Linked DNA regions of Homo sapiens: region 2 is linked to region 1. A link means that fine-mapping ties the variant in region 1 to the expression of a gene that starts in the linked region. Tissue or cell type: whole blood. Region 1 holds a variant in brackets; the other region holds the start of a gene. All regions are shown on one strand. Distances are between the middles of the regions.

The links. PIP is the estimated chance that this variant, and not a neighbour inherited with it, causes the effect.
Region 2: it holds the start of BLTP3B, and the variant in region 1 is fine-mapped to the expression of BLTP3B in whole blood (INTERVAL, PIP above 0.99). The same link has a PIP of 0.9 or more in visceral fat.

Annotation. Positions count from the first base shown.
Region 1 is chr12:100,116,967-100,127,846 of GRCh38, reverse strand. The region is part of intron 1 of BLTP3B (bridge-like lipid transfer protein family member 3B); the gene reads left to right. Among named protein-coding and RNA genes, the nearest start is that of BLTP3B, 20 kb to the left of the region's middle. The variant A/G (reference allele first, on the strand shown) is at 5,364.
Region 2 is chr12:100,136,013-100,146,892 of GRCh38, reverse strand. It overlaps BLTP3B (bridge-like lipid transfer protein family member 3B), which reads left to right and starts at 4,019. Exons shown (of 21, transcript NM_015054.2): 1 at 4,019-4,301. The coding sequence starts at 4,258. It overlaps BLTP3B-DT (BLTP3B divergent transcript), which reads right to left and starts at 3,838. Exons shown (of 2, transcript NR_186018.1): 1 at 3,550-3,838; 2 at 2,222-2,353. RefSeq lists enhancers at 1-298, 3,711-4,474 and silencers at 3,855-4,034, 4,355-4,604, 7,993-8,142.

The sequences.
Region 1 (10,880 bases):
AGATGAAGTCTCACTATGTTGCCCAGGCTGGTCTCAGAGCTCCTGGGCTCAAGCAGTCCCCCCACCTAGGCCTCCCAAAGTGCTAGGATTACAGGTATGCACCAGCATGCTCTGCCAGGATTCATTTTTGAAGAATTTAAGGGTTTTACAGCATTCTCTTCTACCCTCTCCTGTCTTTTTAAAAATTTCATTATCAGGGAAAGCAATTATGTTATAAAACCAGGTTATTGGAAATGGTGCTGAATTTCTTTCAATTTAGGACTCAATGAAAAACCTAGAAACTCATATCACTGAATACTTCTAATTCTTGGGAAATTTATCCACATAAATACTTTGAACTTCCAAAAGTCTTGTAATAAATTGTTAATTAAATGCCACAAGTAGAATTGTGCAACTTATTACATACTTACCTAAGAGTAATGGACAAATGAGAAACTTATTGGCTATATGCTAAAGCAATTGTATAGGCCTAGTGGCCTAAATATTGTTTTACGTTCTTGCCTGCATTGATTCCATGCTTTCATTTGGGAACCTGGATCTCAAACAGAATTGCCAAGGGAAAGGTGCCAAGCTTTAACCTCAGGTGGAAACCTTTGAGATTCACTTTAGTATATTAATAGTTAAGGTCTTTTATTGTTTAAAATGGCTTTCAAGGATGGTTCTGATTTTGTGTATACCTCTAGCAAATCCTCTGAGACGCTTGCTCGTGAAGTATAATCACAAGTGTAGCCCTTTGTTTTTTCTAGATTATACCTCCTTAAAACATATCTTTTTTTTTTTTTGGCCTGGTTTATGCTTAGCTTATTCAAGGTGAAGTGTTATGATTGTATTCCAAGTTTTAACCACAGCTATCCATGTGTTTATTCAAATCACCTACCAAGATTCATTCCTTTTTCTTCTTTACCTTCCTGTTTTAATCAGTCATGATTACTTTATATTGAAATAACTATTGAACTTATCTTCTTTATCCTAAACCTAGGACATAGCAGGCTGCTTGGAATAAAGTAGATATCAGTAAGATTTGAATATCTCTCATCACCAGATTTCATTAATTATTTATTGCATCAGTTGTTGCAACTAAACACTGAGTATTTTCATCTCCTTTGGGTCTCATACTTCTGTATTCCATCCTTGGCGCTGTTAAGAGAAAGATGTTTCCAAAATGCTAATCTTAACATTTAATTTCTTGCTAAAAATCTTTTAATGGCTCCTGTTTAAGCTTTTTTTTTAATAAAAAATTTTGTTTATAACAGTAGAATTTTTGTGCCCAAAGAGATTTTAAAAGAGAACTTTACTACATAAAGTAGACAAAAGTAGAGCTCCTCTAGTTGAGTCAGTAATTGGATGGTGGGTGGTGGTGGTTCCTTTGGCATATTCTTTCTTTTTTTTTTTCTCCTCTCACTTGAGTTGAACCATGAGCAGTCTTCTTAGGGGCACTGTGGGAAAAACATTGATGTGTAGGTTAAAACCCATATTCGTTGGCTTGGAAAACAAGAGTCCTTCATGATCTGGCTTCAGTTGGCTTCTCAAGGAATATTGTTTCTTTCCAAACTACCTGAGGCCTTATCTTACATCTGTGTCTACTGTGTGACCCTGTAATCTTGAACGTGCTGCTGCTGCCGCCTCTGAAATGTCCTTCTCTCTGCCTTATTCACTTGACAAAAACTTACTGTTTAAAAACGTAGCTTGAGTGCTGCCTACTTTTATGAAGCCTTCCCAAAGTCTTCTTTACTATTTTCTTTATTTTAATAGATAGCCTTACTCTTTTGCCCAGGCTGTTCTCAAACCCCTGGGCTCAAGTCATCCTCCCACCTCAGCCTCCCAAAGTGTTGGGATTACAGGCGTGAGCCACTGCACCTGGATATCTACTTTACTGTTAAGAGAATTGATCATCACCCTTTTCCTTGTGATTCCATTTTATCCTGTTGCCATTTTTATTGTATGACCTATCACATAGTACCCAGCACATAGTAAGATCATAACATATTGCAATGATTTATTTATATGCTTGCTTCTAATAATAAAATGTGAAGTTCTTGAAAAACAGTAACTATTTCTTATTTGTTTAAATTTCCCAAGAGCCTAATGAGTGACTGGCAAATAGTAGGCACTCAGTTTTTGCTATGAAGGATATATGTCTAGTTGTGTCAGATCTTCTGATATTTCAATAAAATCTGGATGCCCATATTTTCTGCCCTGCCCTGCTCCCCTCACTCTGTTGCCCATGCTGGAGTGCTATGGCGTGATCACAGCTCACTGCAGCCTTGACCTCCCAGGCGTAAGTGATCCTTCTGCCTTACCCTCCCAAGTAGTTGAGACCACAGGTACACCACCATGCTCGGCTAATGTTTTATTTTTTCTAGAGATGGGGTCTCCCTATGTTTCCCAGACTGGTCTCAAACTCTTGCCCTCAGGTAATCCTCCTGCCTTGGGCCTCCCAAAGTGTTGAGATTGTAGTCGTTAGCCACCATACCCAGCCTGATGCCCAGATTTTTTTTTTTTTTTTTTTTTGAGATGGAAACCGGTCGCTCTGTCACCCAGGCTGGAGTGCAGTGGCGCAATCTTGGCTCACTGTAGCCTCTGCCTCCCGGGTTCTAGCGATTCTCCTGCTTCAGCCTCCCTGAGTAGCTGGAATTACAGGCGTGTGCCTCCATGTCTGGCTAATTTTTGTATTTTTAGTAGAGACGGGGTTTCACCATGTTGGCCGGGCTTATCTGGAACTCCTGACCTCGGATGATCCGCCCATCTCGGCCTCCCAGAGTGCTGGGATTACAGGCGTGAGCCACTGTGCCCGGCCTCAATGCCCAGATTTTAATGTAAGGTCTACCCATATATATATATATATGGACCTTAATAAATAAATATAAATATATATATATATATATATATATATATATATATATATATATAAAATTTTTTTTTTTTAAGGCAGGGTCTCACTCTGTCACCCAGGTGGGAGTATAGTGGTGTGATCATAACTCAATGCAACTTTTAACTCCTGGGATCAAACGATCCTTCTGCCTCAGCCTTCCAAGTGGCTAGGACTACAGGTGTGTGCCACCATGCCCAGCTAATTTTTATTTTTATTATTATTATTTTTTGAGATGGAGTCTCACTCTGTTTCTCAGGCTAGAGTGCAGTGGAGCAATCTTGGCTCACTGCAACCTCTGCCTCCTGGGTTAAAGTGATTCTCCTGTGTTAGCCTCCTTGAATAGCTGGGATTACAGGCGCGTGCCATCACGCCCAGCTAATTTTTTTGTGTTTTTAGTAGAGATGGGGTTTCACAATGTTGGTCAGGCTGGTCTCGAACTCCTGAGCTCGTGATCTACCCTCCTCAGCCTCCCAGAGTGCTGGGATCACAGGCGTGAGCCACCATGCCTAGCTAATTTTTATTTTTTTTAATATTTTGTAGAGACAGGATCTCTGTGTTGCCCAGGCTGGTCTCAAACTCCTGGTGTCAAGCAGTCCTCCTTGCCTCAGCCTCCCTTAGTGCTGGGATTACAGGCGTGAGCCACTGTGCCCTGCCTAGGTCTACCCATTTTTAATGGTTTTTATTTATTTATTTGAGAGACAAGGTCTCACTCTCTCTCCCAGACTGGAGTGCATGGTGTTATCATAGTGCACACTTAAATGCAGCCTCAAACTTCTTGGCTCAAGTGATCCTCCTGTCTCAGCCTCTGAAGTAGCTAGGTCTACAGGCATGCACCACCATGCTTGGCTAATTAAAAAAAAAAAAAAAATTCTCGTAGAGATGGGGTCTTGCTATGTTTCCCAGGCTGATCTTGAACTCCTAGCTTCAAGCAGTCTTTCTGTCTTCGGCCTTCCAAAGTGTTGTGGGTACAGGCATGAGCCACAATGCCTATCCTATTTTAAAGGTTAACAACAAATTGAGATTTTTAAAAACACTGTGTGGGCCAAATAGTATCTGTGGGCAGACAGCTCACAGGCTGCCAGTTTGCATTCTTTCATTCTTTAAATGTTTATTTGGAAAAACTGGTTATATGAGATTGATTTTTTTTCATTACACGCATAATTACAAAAATAACCAAGCCAGACAAACTCTGTGTAAATTGAGAATGCATTTAAAAAAAAAAAGGCAGTTTAAACCATTGGGAGCATACTTTGATTCTTGTTCCATTAATATTTTAGGTTTTAGTTTAAAAAATTTATGCCTTGACGTTAATCAAACTCAAAGAGCCTGTCCGTCAGAAGTTCTGGAGGCCCAGACTTGCAATGGGTTTGGTGGGCAAGGACTGGGGTGACGGAGGGCAGTCTTGGGACTGAGCCCTCAGCCTGTGGGATTTGGGATCTGATACCATCTCCAGATAGACAGTGTCTGAACTGAATTAGAGGGCACACAGCTGGTGTCCACTGCTTGGTGTGTGGGGGAGAAAACTCCACGCACACGGTCACAGAATTTTTCTGTGTTGATGATTATTGTTGTGTGAGCAGAGGAAAAACATCGTTAGAGAGTTTCCCTATACACTACAACACTCAGTTCCTTCTAAAATACCATTTTTTTAAATTGTTTTTGGCTCTGTCTGCCCTGACTATAGTAAGCCCTATAGGGCAAAGATCTTTGTCTGTCTGTTCTCTCATACATCCCAAGCACCCAGATTGGTGTCTGCCACATAGTAGGTCCTCAGTTAATATTTGTTGAATGTACAATACCTTTAATCTCTCAGACACTCTGCTAGGGACTGAGGACAAGATCCCTGCTCTCTTGGAGCTGATCTTCTAGTTGGGGAGAGGCAAACATGTAAGAAGGCAAGTAATTGCAAATTCTAATAGACCAGGAAGATCAAAGTGGATGAAGCGAGCAGAGCATGGGATGGGAGGAGAGAGGAGAGAAGCTGCTCTGAAGGGGTGATGAATTAGGGTAAACCTAAGAGATGAGAAGGATGAGAGGGTGAAAAGCATGCCAGGCACAGGGAGCTGCATGTCCAACTGTTCTCAGGGGAGAAAGTTTGGCCTTCTCTAGGAACAGACGGAGAGAAGGCAAGGGATCCTAAGGGAGATGGTGCAAGGGCTTTTGGGGAGTTTGGGGTTTATCCAAAATGTAGTAGAGAAGAGGGTTCTTGAAGAGTTTTCAGCAGGGATGGGACATGTGGGATTTGTGTAAAGCAGGGAGCAAACTATGGCTCAAGGGCCTGCTTTGGCTCACTGCCTGTTTTTGGAAACAAAGTTTTATTGGATCACAGACACACCATTAGTTTTCTTAGGAGCTACAAAGGCAGAATTTATGAAAAAAGAAAATGTTTATGCCTGGAATATATGCTAAGTCTTACAAATTTACACTGAAAGCTCCTTGAGGGTAAGAGTTGCCATATATTGCTACAATGCCTAGTAAATGCTCAGTAAAT[A/G]TGGTTGAACTGAAAATTTATCAGTATGATAATGGAATGGTAACTGATCCTAAAATACCTCTTAAACTAAAATTGTACAGGTTTGATTATAGTCTGGGCTCTACTTTAGTGTGACCTTCAGCATTTGACTTAACCTCTCTAGGCTTCATATTCTCTACTATAAAATGAGGAGGTTGGATTAAATTATTTGATATTCTTTGTAGTATGAGGACTGCCTATGGCTCCACTTTTTTAAGCTTAAAATTGCTTCTAATATCTCCATTGGATGGCAGATGCAATGGGGTGGTTTTCAAAAGGCCATGGTTCTAATACCTTATATATTTTTATTCCATTGTATTTTATTAATAGTTAACAAGTTCATTTATTTTATTTTATTATTTGAGATGGAGTCTCACTGTGTTGCTCAGGCTGGTCTGGAACTCCTGGGCTTAAGTAATCCCACCTTAGCCTCCTGAGTATCTGGGATTACAAGCAGGCACCACCATGCCTGGCTAAATTCATTATTTTTTAAGATATTTATATATACACATATATGTGTGTGTATATATATAGTATGTATATATCTTATTTGAACAGCTTTATTAAAATATAACTGATTTATAGGCAATACACTGCACATATTTAAGGTGTACAATTTGATGACTTTTTTTTCTTGAGACGGACTTTCGCTCTTGTTGCCCAGGCTGGAGTGCAGTGGCACGATCTCAGCTCACCGCAGCCTCCGCCTTCTGGGTTCAAGCAATTCTCCTGCCTCAGCTTCCCAAGTAGCTGGGCTTATAGGCGGGCGCCACCACGCCCGCTAATTTTGTACTTTTAGTAGAGACAGGGTTTCACCATGTTGGTCAGACTGGTCTCAAACTCCCGACCTCAGGTGATCCGCCCTCCTTGGCCTCCCAAAGTGTTGGGATTACAAGCTTGAGCCACCATGCCTGGCCTGATGAAATTTTAACATATATGTAATCATAATACCATTACCATAATTAAGAAAATGAATATTCACCACCCTCAAAAGTTTCCTCATGCTCCTTTGTAATCCTCTCTCTCCTTCTGCCTCATTCCTGGGCAACCACTGATCTACTTTATATCACTTAGGTTAGTTTGCATTTTCTGTTTTTTTTTTTTTTTTTTTCCATGAGATGGAGTTTCACTCTTGTTGCCCAGGCTGGAATGCAGTGGCACTATCTCAGCTCACTGCAACCTCCACCTCCCAGGTTCAAGTAATTTTCCTGCCTCACCCTCCCGAGTAGCTGGGATTACAGGCATGTGCTACCACACCCCACTAAAAATTCTGTATTTTTAGTAGAGGCAGGGTTCCTCCATGTTGGTCAGGCTGGTCTCAAACTCCTGACCTCAGGTGATCCGCCCACCTCGACCTCCCAAAGTGCTGGGATTACAGGCGTGTGCCACTGTGCCCGGCCTAGTTTGCATTTTCTAGATTTTTATATAAATATGCATTTTTTCCTGGCTTCTTTCACTCAGCATTATTATCTTGCAATTAATCTATTTTATCGTATGTGTACATTCTTATTGCTGATTATTCTATTGTGGATATACCACAATTTATCCGTTTACCTTTTGATAGATATTTGGGTTGTGTCCGTTTGTCAGCTATTAGAAATAAAGCTATTATGAACATTCGTGTATAAATCTTCGTGAGGACATAGGCCTTTCTCTCTCTCTCTCTCTCTCTTACATAATTGTATGTGCTATGTTTTCATATGAAGGTCCTAAGCTTTTCATTCCTTTTAAGTAAATTCTTAGTAGTAGAATGGTTAGGTATATGCTAGGTATATGCATCACTTTAAAAACAAATTCCAAACAGCTTTCCAAAGTGGTTTCAACTTGTTCATTTTACATTCTCACAAATACGTATATGAGAGTTCCAGTTGCTCCATATCTTCACCAATACTCAGTATAGTTAGCCTTTTTAATTTTAGCTATTTTAGTGGATAAGTAGTGGTATCTTACTGTGGTTTTTAATTTGCAGTTTTCTAATGACTAATGTTGGGCATCTTTTCAAGTGCCTATCTGCCATCTGTGTCTTCTTTGGTTCCAAGGTCCCTTTAAATCTTTTGCCTATTTTATTTTTTATTTTTATTTTTTTCTTTTTTGAGATGGAATCTTGCTCTGTCACCCAGGTTGGAGTGCAGTGGTGCGATCTTGGCTCACTGAAACCTCCACCTCCTAGGTTCAAGCAATTCTGCCTCAGCCTCCCGAGTAGCTGGGATTACAGGCGCCTGTCTCACGCTCAGCTAATTTTTGTATTTTTAGTAGAAATGAGGTTTTGCCATTTTGGCCATGCTGGTCTCAAACTCCTTATCTCAGGTGATCCGCCCGCCTAGGCCTCCCGAAGTGCTGGGATTACAGGCGTGAGGCACCACGCCCAGGCCTTTTGCCTGTTAGTGAATTGTCTTACTTTCAAGTTGTAAGAATTTAAAAAAAATTGTAGGTACAAGTCTTTTTTCAAATATATGCTTTGGAAATATTTTTTCCCAGTCTATGGTTGCCCTGTAGTTACAGTGTCTTTCAAAGGGCAGAGGTTTTAATTTTGATCCACTAACTTATTTTTTTCTCCTATGATTTGTGCATTTTTTGTTGCGTTAAATCTACCAAACTCAAGGTTACTAATATTTTCTTCAGGAGTTTTTAAGTTGTAGTTCTTAGATTTAGGTCTGTGATAATTTAGAGTTAATTTTTGTTTATGGGGTGAGGTAAAGGTCAAGGATTTTTTTGTTTTTTGTTTTTTTTGCATATGGCTGTAACATCATTCTGGTACCACTTCTTAAAAATATTATTTTCATTGACTTGTTTTTGCACCTTTGTTGGAAATTAGCTAACCATGAATTTGGGTCTTTTTCTGGACTCTGTATTTTGTTGCATTTATTATTTATTTACACCCACCATTATCAGACTGCCTCGATTACTGTAGCTTTTAGATAAGTCTTGAAATTGGCAGTATAATGTTTCCAACTTTGTTCATCTTTTTCAGAGTTATTTTGGATATTCTAGGTCTTCTACATTTTCATGAAAATTTTAGAATCAGTATGTCATTTCTCTCAAAAAAGAAGCCTGCTTGGGTTTTGCTTAGGGTTGCCTTGAATCTGTAAGTCTTTTTGAGAGAATTGATGACATTTTAACAGTATTGAGTTTAATCCACTAATATGTTTTATTTCTTCATTTATTTAGATCTTCTTCAATTTCTTGCAACAGTATTTTGTAGTTTTCAGTTTCTAGGTCTTGCACACCTTTTGACAAATTTATCCCTAAAAATTTCATATTTCTTATGCTAATGTTAATGGTAGTTTAAAATATTCAGTTTCTGATTGTTGCTACATATAGAAACATAATTTATTTATTTATTTTTTTATTTTATTTCATTTTTGAGACAGAGTCTGGCTCTGTCGCCCAGGCTGGAGTGCAGTGGCGCGATCTCGGCTCACTGCAACCTCCGCCTCCTGAGTTCAAGCAATTCTCCTGCCTCAGCCTCCCGAGTAGCTGGGACTACAGGTGCATGCCACTAAGCCCAGCTAATTTTTGTATTTTTAGTAAAGACAGAGTTTTACCATGTTGGCCAGGCTGGTCTTTGAACTCCTGACGTTGTGATCTGCTCGCCTTGGCCTCCCACAGTGCTGGAGTTACAGGCATGAACCGCAACACCCAGCTGATTTCTTTATTATAATTTTTATTGAGTGAAATTTACATACAATAAAATGAATAAACTTTCCATAATCAGCTCTGATTTTTTAAAAATAAGCTTTTAATCTTAGAATAGTTATGGATTTATAGAAAGGTTGTGAAGATAATGCAGAATTCTCATACCCAACATTTAGTCTCTCTTACTATTAGCATTTTACATTCATATGGTTCATCACAATTAACTAATGTTGATAATTATTATAGGCCATACTCTGTTCAAATTTCCTTAGTATTTCTTTTACCCAATGTCCTTTTTCTATTCCATGGTCCCATTCCAAATATATTACATTTAGTCATCATGTCTTTTTAGGCTCCTCTTGGTTGTGCCCATTTCTCAGACGTTCCTTGTTTTTGAAGACCTTGAGAGTTTTTTGTTTTGTTTTGTTTTGTTTTGTTTTGAGACGGTCTCACTCACTCTCCCAGACTGGAGTGCAGTAGTGTGATTATGACTCACTGCAGCCTCAACCTCCTGGGCTTAAGCAGTCCTCCTGCCTCAGCCTCCTGAGTAGCTAGAACTACAGGCATGCACCACTACACCTGGCTAATATTTTATTTTTTTGGAGAGGCATAAGCCACCGTGCCCAGCCAACCTTGAAAGTTTTGAGGAGACCTGGCCACGTGTTTTGTACAGTGTCCTTCAATTGGGGTTTGTCTGCTGTTTTCCTTTAAAAAAAATACAAAAATTTATATAAAATTACTCATTTTTTTTTCTGGGACCAAGAGAAATGCCAATTTCAACTGTGTCAAGATATCTTTGGTTGCTCTATAAAATCGATACACATAAGTCCAGGATTGATAAGAGTAGTATAAAAAAGGCATTCTTTGTATCTCCTCCACGATAAATCTGTGATTTTAAATCTGATGCATATAAATGAGTCCCCCAGATAACTTCCTAAAATGGAGATTTCTAGGCCCTGCTCCATATCAAGAGCACCAGAATCTCTGGGAATGGGCTTGAAATGGAGTAGTTTTAAAAAGCACCCCAAAGGTCAGGTGCGGTGGCTCATGCCTGTAATCCCAGCACTTTGGGAGGCCACAGCAGGAGGATTGCTTGAGCCCAGGAGTTTGAGACCAGCCTGGGCAACACAGCGAGACCCCATCTCTACAAAAAAATTAAAAATGAGCTGGACGTGGTGGTGCTGGGCATGTTGAGGAGGTCAAGGTGGAGGCAGGGGAGGTGGAGGCAGGGGAGGATCTTAGGAGGTCGAGGCAGGGGAGGATCACTTGAGCCCAGGAGTTCAAGGCTGCAGTGAGCTGTGATCACACCACTGCCCTCCAGCCTGGGCGACAGAACGAGACTGCCTCAAAATAAATAAATAAAAAGTTCTGCAGGTAATTCTGAAGTCACTAGTGTATGTCTACCCTTTTTCTTAGGATTAGATTGGCATTAGGGGTTTTTGGCAAGGAGACCACAGAGGTTAGTTAAGAGCTCTTTTTATTATGTCAAATCAGGGGTACATATTATCAACATGTCTTATTGCCGATGTTGACGTTGATAACCTGGCTGATGTAGCATTTGCCAAGTTCTCCACTGTAAAGTTATTCTTTTCCCCATTTTCTTACTGAACATTTTGGAAGGAAGTACTATGTGCAGCCCTCACTAAAAGAATGAGGAGTTATGCTCCACCTCCCTGAGACTAGAATATCTATGTAATTTTTTTGGAACTTTTCTGCCAGGAAGATTTCTCTATTTTCTCCAAGTTATTTATTTATTTAATCATATGTTTATATTAGTGTAGACTTCTGTATTTTTGTTTTATAGTTTGTGTTATTATCCAGTACTGTTTTATTTATTTTGTTGCTCAGATTCTTTCAGCTTTG
Region 2 (10,880 bases), 19 kb before region 1:
TAAAGAAGCTGGCCAAAACCCATCAAAACCAAGATGGTCATGAAAGCAACCTCTGGTCATCCTCACTGCTCATTAAACACTAATTATAATATATTTGCATACTAAAGGAAACTCCCATCAGGGCCATGACAGTTTACAAATGCCATGGTAACATGGAGAAATTACCCTATATGATCTGAAAGGGGGAGGAACTCTCAGTTCCAGGAACTCCCTGCACCCTTACTAGAAAACTCATGAATATGTACCCTTTGTTTAGCATATAATCAAGAAATAACCATAAGTATAGTTGGGCAGCCCATGCTGCTACTCTGCTTATGGCGTAGCTATCCTTTTATTTCTTTACTTTCTTAACAAACTTGGTTTCACTTTACTCTTGTCAGCTTGGTCTTGAATTCTTTCCTGCAGAAGGCAGGAACCCAAGTAGCCTCCCAGCCTGAACCCCAATTTGGGGGTCACCCTACCACAACCAGCATAGCTAAATATCTGCAGAGTTCAGTTTTGATATGGACAGGAGACAGGGAAATACTGGGTAGAACAGAGTGGTTCCCTGGCAAATGCCCTACTCTCAAGCCTGGAAACCCACCGTCCTAAATGGGAACAGGCATTTCTGTTTTTGTGCTCAAAAGTTGCCTTTTGGCCTGCCACAGCACCCTATCTTGTATCCATAGAAAGCCCAAACCCCAGGCTCCACAAGCAGATGAGCAGACAAGGAGATGAACAGATGAGCAGAAGAATGGCAGACCAGTGCAGCAGAGACAAGAGAAGTAGTGACTGAACGCTGAGAAGAGTTTGGCCACTGGATGGCCAAATTCCAGGGGAAGATCATCTTCCCACTCCATCCCCTTTCCAGCTTCCCATCCATCCTGTTGAGAGCCACCTCTACCACTCAATAAAACCCCACATTCACCGTCCTTCAAGTCCCTGTGTGACCTCTTTCTGGATGCCTGACAATGACCTGGATACTAAGAGGGCACTGAGCTAGTTAACACTTAAGCTATCTGTGGACAACAAAGCTAAAAGAGTGCAGTGTAACGCATGCCCACTTGGGCTTCAGGAGTTGCAGTTACCCACCCCTAGACGCTACCATGGGGCCAGAGTTCAAAAGTCCTTGCTCCGGCTTCTGCACTTGCCCATCTGTGTGCTCCCTGTCCTATTAGGGGTTTGCATGTGCTCGGTAGCCAAGCAGATGAGCCACCCCCCTGTGTACTTCGTGCATTAGTGTTAGTCCTGCGAGTGAAGTCAGGGAACCCTCCTGCTTCAGTTTTAAATCCAAGTCTTTGATTTCAGGGTCCATTTTTTTAAAAAAATTAAATGGATTTATTCATATCTTTGAAATAATACCTCTACTATAAGTCTGTCCCCAAATGAATTACTCCTTCCTCTGTGTTCTTATAGCACTTTGCTTGTTTTTGGTAAAGTAATTAATAATACCTAGCCTTTATTGAGTTTGCTATAAGGCAGGTTAACAGTAGCTACTAATAATAATATCTCTTAACACATGAGATCACTGAAGCTGAGAAAGATTAATTTGCTGAAGTTTACACAGTTATAAAGTGGCCAGCATTTGAACCAGAGTCTACTAACAGAGCTGAAGGTGTAAGTAACATGAGTCTGCCTTCCAAGCCAGGCCGTTAACTCTGATGGCAGGAACAGAGATTTTTGTTTTCATTTAGGCAACCCCAGGATACTTGAATAGTGCCTGGTTTATAATCTATGATAAATGTTGAGTGTAGTCAGCTGGGTGTGGTGGCTGATGCCTGTAATCCCAACACTTTGGAAGGCTGAGGCGGGCGGATCACGTGAGGTCAGGAGTTCGAGACCAGCCTGGCCAACATGGTGAAACTCCGTCTCTACTAAAAATACAAAAATTAGCCTGGTAATCCCAGCTACTTGGGAGGCTGAGGCAGGAGAACTGATTGAACCTGGGAGGCGGAGGTCGCAGCGAGCCAAGATCGTGCTGCTGCATTCCAGCCTGAGCGATGGAGTAAGACTGTCTCAAAAATAAAATAAAAATAAAATGAAATGTTGAGTGTAGTCAACTTACACGTCTATCCTTTCCATTCTTCAAAAAGGGCCAGCTTATTGGACTATGTGTAAACTACTTCCCACCCAACTCCCAAGATGTACAACCACACATCTTGCTAATACATCCCTCAGGGGTGGTACAATTTCTTTTCCTGTTTTAGATATCACTAGTGTTAAAAGAAAAACTTCAGCCAAATTAAATTTAAAGGAGTTTAACAATGAACGATTCCTGAGTCTGGCAGCCCCCATAATCACAGCAGATTCAGAGAGACTCCAGCACAGCCACATGCTGGGAGCAGATTTCTGGCCAGCAAAAGGAAAGTGAGGTCTAGAAAATGGAAGTGAGGTACAGAAACAACTGGATTGCTTACAGCTCAGTGTTTGCCTTATTTGAACACAGTCTGAACAGTTGGCTACATCTGGCCAAAACTCAGTGATTGGCACAGGTGTGGGCTATGGTCGGTTTATACCTCTGCTTATTTTCATAAGTTCATGATGTACAGAAAAACCTTTAGGCTGAACTCAATTACGTAAGGAGGCAGTGTTAGGCTAAACTTGACTTAACACTGAGTAATTTTTTTTTTTTTTGAGACAGTCTTGCTCTGTCGCCCAGGCTGGAGTGCAGTGGCTTGATCTCAGCTCACTGCAACATTTGCCTCCCGGGTTCAAGCAATTCTCCTGCCTCAGCCTCCTGAGTAGCTGGGATTACAGGCGCCCGCCACTATGCCCAGCTAATTTTTGTATTTTTTTTTTGTAGACACAGAGTTTCACCATGTTGGTCAGGCTGGTCTTGAACTCCTGACCTCAAGTGATCTGCCTGCCTCGGCCTCCCAAAGTGCTGGGATGACAGAAGTCGTCATTTTAATCTCTGAAAATGTTAGCTCTGTTTGGGATTGGGTGGGGTGGAGGTGTAGAATTGTAACAGTTTTCCCTAGTTCAACAATTTCCTTCCTTCCTTACAGAACTTTTCATATGATATTTACACCTTTAGGTTCAACCTAGTGAAGTGGGTAAGGCTGATGATTAATCTATTTCACAGATGATTAAAATGAAACTAATAGTAAAGAAATTATTTTCCCCAGGATAACACAGCTAGAAAATACCAGAGCCAGGACTTGAATTATACACCTTCTAATTCCTAGGTCCTAGACTACTAGGAACCATTGTCAACCTTTACTTCCCTTAGAATAGCAATAACCAAAGGAAACATTAAATTGCCACATTTAGGTAAGGGAAAGGCAGGACACCTTAACAAAAGAAAAAAAAAAAACACCAAAAACAAAAACCTAAGGAAGAATATGAAGAAAGGTGAGTAGGTCAAGAGAGCAAAGCAAGCACAGGAGTTAATGGCCGATTCTTAAAACATTCTAAGGAGGCCGGGTGCAGTGGCTCACGCCTGTAATGTCAGCACTTTGGGAGGCTAGGAGGGTGGATCACGAGGTGAGAAGTTCGAGACCTACTGGCCAATATGGTGAAACCTCGTCTCTAATAATACAAAAATTAGCCGGCCGTGGTGGTGCGCACCTGTAATCCCAGCTACTCAGGAGGCTGAAGCAGGAGAATCGCTTGAACCCTGGAGGTGGAGGTTGCAATGAGCCGAGATCGTACCACTGGACTCCAGCCTGTGTGACAGAGCAAGACTTGTCTCAAAAAAAAAAACAAACAAGCAAAAAAATAAAAAACATTCTGAGGAAATGAATAAGGGAAGTAGGACGTGGAAGTAAAAATCAGCGACGGGTCAGCGATGGAGGCGGGAACACCAGCAGAGGGAAGGAGGGAGGATTAAGGCCAAGAAGGATGGTGTATTGAGAGTCAAGGGCCCTGTGTCGCGAGGGCTAAGAACCCTGGCGCCAATGCCACAAACCTCCCGCCCCCGCCCAGAGCCCAGCCAGAGCCCAGCCAGAGCCCGCCCAGAGCCCGCCCAGAGCCGGCGTTGGCCCCGCCCCGCCTCGTGCCGGCCCCGCCTGGAGCCGCCCCGCCCCCGCCCTCCACCGAGTCTCTTAGGTGATGCTGCAGCCAAGATGGCGCCCGCGGCGGCCGTGGCGGCCTGAGCGTGATGCTCCGGGTTCTCGGCGGCGGCTGTGGCCTTGGCCGGGGCCTTGGGTCTCTCCCGGTCGTGAGCGATCAGCGCCTCTCCGCCGGCCGGGCTAGCCGGGACAGAGAGGAGACGGCCACGAAGAGAGGAGGCAGTGAGCAACAGGACGAGACCGCGGCGTCTCCAGCCTCGGTACCATGGCCGGGATCATCAAGAAACAAATCTTGAAGCACCTCTCCAGGTCAGTGAGCGCCTCGGTGTCGGCGCCAGTCGGCCTCCACCCCAGCCCGCACTGGAGTCAGCCTGCGGCTTCGGGGGCGGCGGCGCCTGGCGGCTGTGCGGGAGGCGACCTTCGGACTTCCCCGCTCTGGCCGGGGCAGAGGTCGCGGCCCCGGATCTCTTGTCGCCGGCGGCGCCGGGGGCTGGCCTCACGAATCGGCCCCTGACGCGTCTTCTCCCAGGGTGGGCGCGCGGAGGAGCCCGGAGTGCGGAGCGCGGCGGGCTGGGATCGCTCCCGGCGCGGCGTCTGGGGGCGTCCCGGCTCGGCTCTGTGCGGTACTGAGCGGAGGCTGGAGGTGGCCTGGCGTCACCCAAGTGCCTGGTTAATGTGCTGGGCTCTAACTCGAGTTCGGTGCTCCTTCCCCTTGGAGCAGAGCGGTTCCGTTAACCGAGGGCTTCTGGCGCAGTGTGGACGCTCAGTGGAGGCTGTGTTCTCAGTGGAACGTTAACCTTGTGATTGTTCTGAATTCCTCCCACCTTGGCGTTCCCGCTCTGTGGCATCAGAGGGTGTGCCTGTTTGCACAGTTAGGATTTGTTTTAGGTAAATAAGCAGAGTTCGCAGCTTTGGCAGGTTCTTTCTGGAGTCCTATGAGACCCACATCATTATTACTGAACATTTTTTTTTTTTGGTTTTTGCTCTTTTTCCTCTGCAACTCTAAAATTCAGGGAGTTAACATCTGTGGTGATTAAACCCAAGACATGTCATTCTCTCCATTTCATAACGCGGTTTTAGTCAGAAACATGACTCAGTAAGGCTGGCAGTTTGTTACTGCTCTTGGCTTCTCCGTGTTTGTCTCAAGACACAGGCTAAATGTAGGCTCTTGTTCCAAGTTGTTACCAGCGAACTCAAAGCCCTTGGTTAGGATCCCTTTCTGTTCGATTTGTAAGTTAATTTTAACTAATTTTGGGAAGACACGGGTATGATTATAGACTTGTATAGTAAACATAATTCTTGATTCCCCAGATTGTCTTATACCACAGGTTATATATTGGGAACAGAATTCTACTTCTGTGATTCAGCAAATATTTTCCTCACTTATAATACTGAATAAGATATAGCACTTTTCTTAAAAGTAGCAAAGTATAGCAGCGTGTGTGTGTGTGTGTACATATATATACATATGTACATATATACATATACATATATACACATATATACACATACATATATATGTGTACTACATATATATGTGTATACACTACACATATATATGTGTATATATGTAGTATTTTTTTAGTAGAGACTGGGTTTCACCAGGCCAGGCTGGTCTTGAACTCCCAACCTCAGGTGATCCGCGGTCCTCGGCCTCCCAGAGTGCTGGGATTACAGGTGTGAGCCCCCACGCCCTGCATGAATATGTATTTCTTAATGTTATCACTCATTGAAAAGTTTCTTTTAAAATTATATATATGGCCCAATCTTGAACTATCTTATTTTGGAAGGTTTTATCTATTTTTAATTTATGTCCTCCCGCCTTTCTCATACCCAGCTCCACAAGAAAATACAGATCTGCAGAAAATGATTTGAATGCCTACTTTCTCACTCGTCCAAGGATGATGCTGCATAGCTAGTACCACTCTAGATGCTTGGAAGAAAAGTTAATTCAATCAACAGATAGTGCATTAGAGTTTAATTCTTTTATAGAACTCCATTTGAGAGGGGCTCTTAAAAATTAAGAGCATGCATACCAAAGTATAATAAAAAAAATTAAGAACAAAGATGTAATGGCTTACTGCATGAGATAGAAAACACCCATATATTGAAAATTGAGTCTTTAGGGCTAGTTTTTATTTTATTTTATATATATATATATATATATATATTTTTTTTTTTTTTTTTTTTTTTTTTGAGACAGAGTCTCACTCTGTTTCCCAGACTGGAGTGCAATGGCATGATCTCGGCTCACGGCAGCCTCTGCCTCCTGGCTTCAATCAGTTCTCCTGCCTCAGCCTCCCGAGTAGCTGGGATTACAGGCATGCGCCACCACGCCTGGCTAATTTTGTATTTTTAGTAGAGACAGGGTTTTTCCATGGTGGTTAGGCTGGTCTCAAACTCCCAACCTCAGGTGATCCGCCTGCCTTGGCCTCCCAAAGTGCTGGGATTACAGGTGTGAGCCACCGTGCCTGGCCCTTAGGGTTAGTTTCTAAATCTGTATGATTTGTAATAGCTGTGTGATAAATAGTGTGATGAGGATTTTTTTTTTTTTCAGAGATGAGTTTTTGGGACACTTGAGTTTTCAGTTATTTCATATTTCAAAACATCCTTAACTCAGGTGACTAAAGAGTATCAAATTTTTATTTTTGGTTAATAAGTTAATCTTACTGCTAATTGCTGTCATCTCCTAAGAAAAATAGTTATTCAGAAATCTAAAGGCAGCTCGTAATTGACAAAAGAAGGCAGGTGTTGTGATAAATTATAGTTACTCAGGAAGGAATGAACTTTTGAAATTACCTGGTTCAAGTTTAATTTTATAGAATATCCAGTAATGAAGATGTCACTACATTGACCTAGTGGTCTGGGATACAGTAGAATATAGTTTACCAGGAAATAGTTGAACATACTAGTTTCTAATACTAGACATCATGTGAGGCCTGTGTATGCAACCCATTGCACCTTCTCAAAGGTGACCTTTCCTGACCACAGAGTTTAAAATTGTGAGCCCCCATATTGCCAGTCCTCTTGCTTGCATTATTTTTCTCCATAGCACTCATGCTTGTCTGTCGTACATATTTATTTCTTTATGTATTTTTGTCTTTCTCCACTTAAATGTAGACTCTATGAGAGCAGGGATTTTTGTCTTGAGGCTGGCATAAAGTAGGTACTCAACAACTATTTGTTGCATGAATGTGGATACATAACATGAATGAGCTTACTTTCTCTTACATTGCTTTTTTTTACTGAGGCAAGACTACTGCCAATATTCTTATAGATTTGGGAATGACCAGTTTCCCTGTGGCTTTAGGAGGCAGTGAGTAATTGAATCATTAAATAAATGTGGTGCCTTTGGATCCTGGAAAATAACTAGGAAAATGACCTAGTTCTTACAGGGGTTTATATGAGGGGTCTTCCGGTAAGGAAATAACCCAGTTATTGTATGGGGGGAGGAGTTCTGCCAGTAAGGAGGAAGACTGTGAACCAACATGAGAAAGAGCTCTCATTTTTAGCCTTGAGGTTGAAATATAGTGCAGTTGCAAGATTAAAACCATCTTTGCCTGGATGAAGGGACTTGAGAAGCTGGTATGTTGGGAAAGTATGGAAGAGGAATTGTTCTTAAGAGATTAACAGATTCTTTAACTCAATGCTAAACTATTTGAGAACTGTAAATCTATATACTTGTTCCTTGCCTAATTGTTAGTTTGTATTCCAAACATCTCTCCAGTTGTTAATAAAAAGTTTATCTACTTGAAGAATCTGAAATGAGGACAAGGAGGTGTGTTGGTGGGATGGGGGAGCTTAGAGTAGTGACATTTTTCCAGAGTGAAACAGGAAAAGCTTTTGAAGGAGAAACTGCCCCGATTTTTCAAACTGTAATAGGACTGAATGTATTTTGGGAGGGTTTTCTAGGAGAGTAGTTTTTCACATGGGAATGGAAACTTCTAAAGAGAAGTCGTAACAAATGTGAGAAAGGAAATAAAAGCAGAAGCTACCTTTCAGCTCAAGACATTAGTGTGTGTGTGTGTGTGTGTATGTGTATGTGTATACACATGTACACACCTGTGAACAGGCGCTTGCAAATCGGCAAAGTGGACGTATATTTAATTAAGCCAGGACCTGAAAAGGGGTAGGGAAGTTTTGGATACAGACACTCTCTTCTCCTTCGCTCCCTTAGGCTAAGGGCATACTGTGCTCTGCACAAGGTTTCCTGGGAGTGGGAGTTGACTGGGCAGACATTCACCTCACCTCGGTGGAGTCATCGTATAGTTTAAAGCAGCAGTTGTCAACCAGGGTCAGTTTGTCTTGAGGTGACATTTGGCAGTGTCTGGAGATATTTTTAATTGTCAAGACTTGGAGGGGAGGGTAATACTACTGCCATCTAGTGAATAGAGGCCAGGGATGCTGCTAGACGTTCTACATTGCACAGCATATTCCCTCACAACAAATAATTATTTGCCCAAATGTCAGTAGTTCCGAGATTGAGAAACCAGCTTAAAGTGTACAGGTGTGTGTCGTATGATTGAGCTAGGGTTCTGTGCTAGTAAAGTTGTTTTGCCTGCAAACATCAGAAAGCTGATCTATTTAAGTAAAAAGGGAAATGTAACAGAAAGCAGAAGAATATCTGAACAACCAAATCAAGGAAAGAACAGGAACCAGCTAGCTCCTAGAATCTCATTGGAAGAGTTCTTGGACCTTCCTCTTAAAGTAGCAGCAGGGTTTTTTAACCTTGGCATCATTGGCATTTTGAAATAGATAGTTCTTTGTTGTGAAGGCTGTTCTGTGCATTGTAGGATGTTTAATGTCTCCAGACATTGCCAAATGTCTCATAGGAGGCAAAATTACTCCTGGTTGGGAGCTACAGCTTTAGAGTGCTGGCCTATCTTCCATAATTCCCAGTCTTTGATCTCTCCTGTCAGGTTTCAGAATCCCCTAGAGAGAAAGCCTTTGTGACCCAGTTTTGTCTACCCATGGTTCAATTAGCAATGGCAAAGGGTTGTACAGCAAAAATATGGTAATGGAGAGGGCTATTTTGAGTTAGGCTTGTTGCTCCATTAGTCATCTGTAATAGGCAGTGCACTAAATTAGATTTCCAAGGGCCTCATTTGCTACATTAAGGAAATTGAACTTTATCCTGGGGGTGAGGAGTGACTACTAATAAAGGTAAGAGGGATATGCTCATTAAAGCAGTCTTATTTTTGAAGTCTAGGGTTTAGGAGCAATATCTGGGGTGGAAATACGGAGTCTACAAATGGACTCTGAGTAACTTAAGTAGAAAATGGGGCCAGGTGTGGTGGCTCATGCCTGTAATCCAAGCACTTTGGGAGGCCAAGTCAGGCAGATCACTTGAGCCCAGCAGTTTGAGATCAGTCTGGGAAACATGATGAAAACTCTGTCTCTACCCCAAATACAAAAATTAGCCAGTCTCATAACCTGGTCTCAAAAAAGAAAAAAAGAATATTCATTATGGACATTCAGAAGGGTTAAACACATGCAGGATTTGGTGCCTGAATGGCAAAGTGATGAGAGGGATTAGAGTGCCTCACTTTGTGTTGATGGGATTGGCCACTAGATTGAGGATATATAAGGAAGGGGAGGAGAGGGCGGTAGCTGATAGCCTGGAGAGAAAAGGAAAGAACCGTCAAAGGATTGGGAATGCTATCTAGGTGGAAAAGTAATGGAGTAAAGGAATGAGATAATTGGAAGGGTTGGAGATTTTGTCTGAAACTGTCACATTGAAGTTTAAGATTTTAGAAGTGAAGTAGATCTGGTTTAGGAAAAGCTATCTGAGGCTGGGCGCCGTGGCTTATGCCTATAATCCTACCACTTTGGGAGGCTGAGGCGGGTGGATCACCTGAGGTCGGGAGTTCGAGACCAGTCTGACCAACACGGTGAAACCCTGTCTCTACTAAAAATGCAAAATTAGCTGGGTGTGGTGGCCCATGCCTGTAATCCCAGCTACTCGGGAGGCTGAGACAGGAGAATTGCTTGAGCCCGGGAGGTGGAAGTTGCAGTGAGCTGAGATCGGGCCATTGCACTCCAGCCTGGGCAACAAGAGCGAAACTCCATCTCAAAAAAAATAAAAAAAAAGAAAAAAAAGAAAAGAAAAGCTATCTGATATGGCCATAGAAGTGAGTTGCTGAAGAAAAGTTAAGGTGCATATAATTGGAGATCAATACTGCTAGGTCTAAAATCTTTCCAGTACTGACCATTCCTAAAAGGAAATGCAGTGTAGCTTATTTAGTCTGCCAGACATTATTTTTTCAAATGCTAACTTCACATCATTACTGATAGGCTAATATTTGTATCATAAACTTTTATGGTAAAGCTCAGTAAATAATTTTTGAGAGTTTATGTATTTAACGTTTTTGAGCACATATATATATATGCCACATAGTGGGCATTAGAGATACAAAGATGAGTAAGACATGGCTTCAGTTTGTGGGAAGCTTCAGCGATTCCTATTCTAATATAAGAAGCATGAGTAGGATCACTAACTGTAACCTATTTCTAAATTGGACTACTTGTCTGGCATTGCGGGTGATGTGAAAAAGGAAGAAAAAAATAAAAAAAATTTTATTGCTATATGAAATTTGTTAGATTTTGCAACTAGGAAAAAAACTGATTTAAATATTGTTTTTTGGATTATAAATTTACTTGAGTAGGTTTGAGGTGTTTTTTTTTTTTTTTGAGACAGAGTCTCGCTATGTTGCCCAGGCTGGAGTACAATGGAGCAATCTCAGCTCACTGCAACCTCTGCCTCCTGGGTTCAAGCAATACTCCTGCCCTAGCCTCCTGAGTAGCTGGGATTACAGACATGCACCACCACACCCAGCTAATTTTTGTATTTTTAGTAGAGACGGGGTTTCACCATGTTGGCCAGGCTGT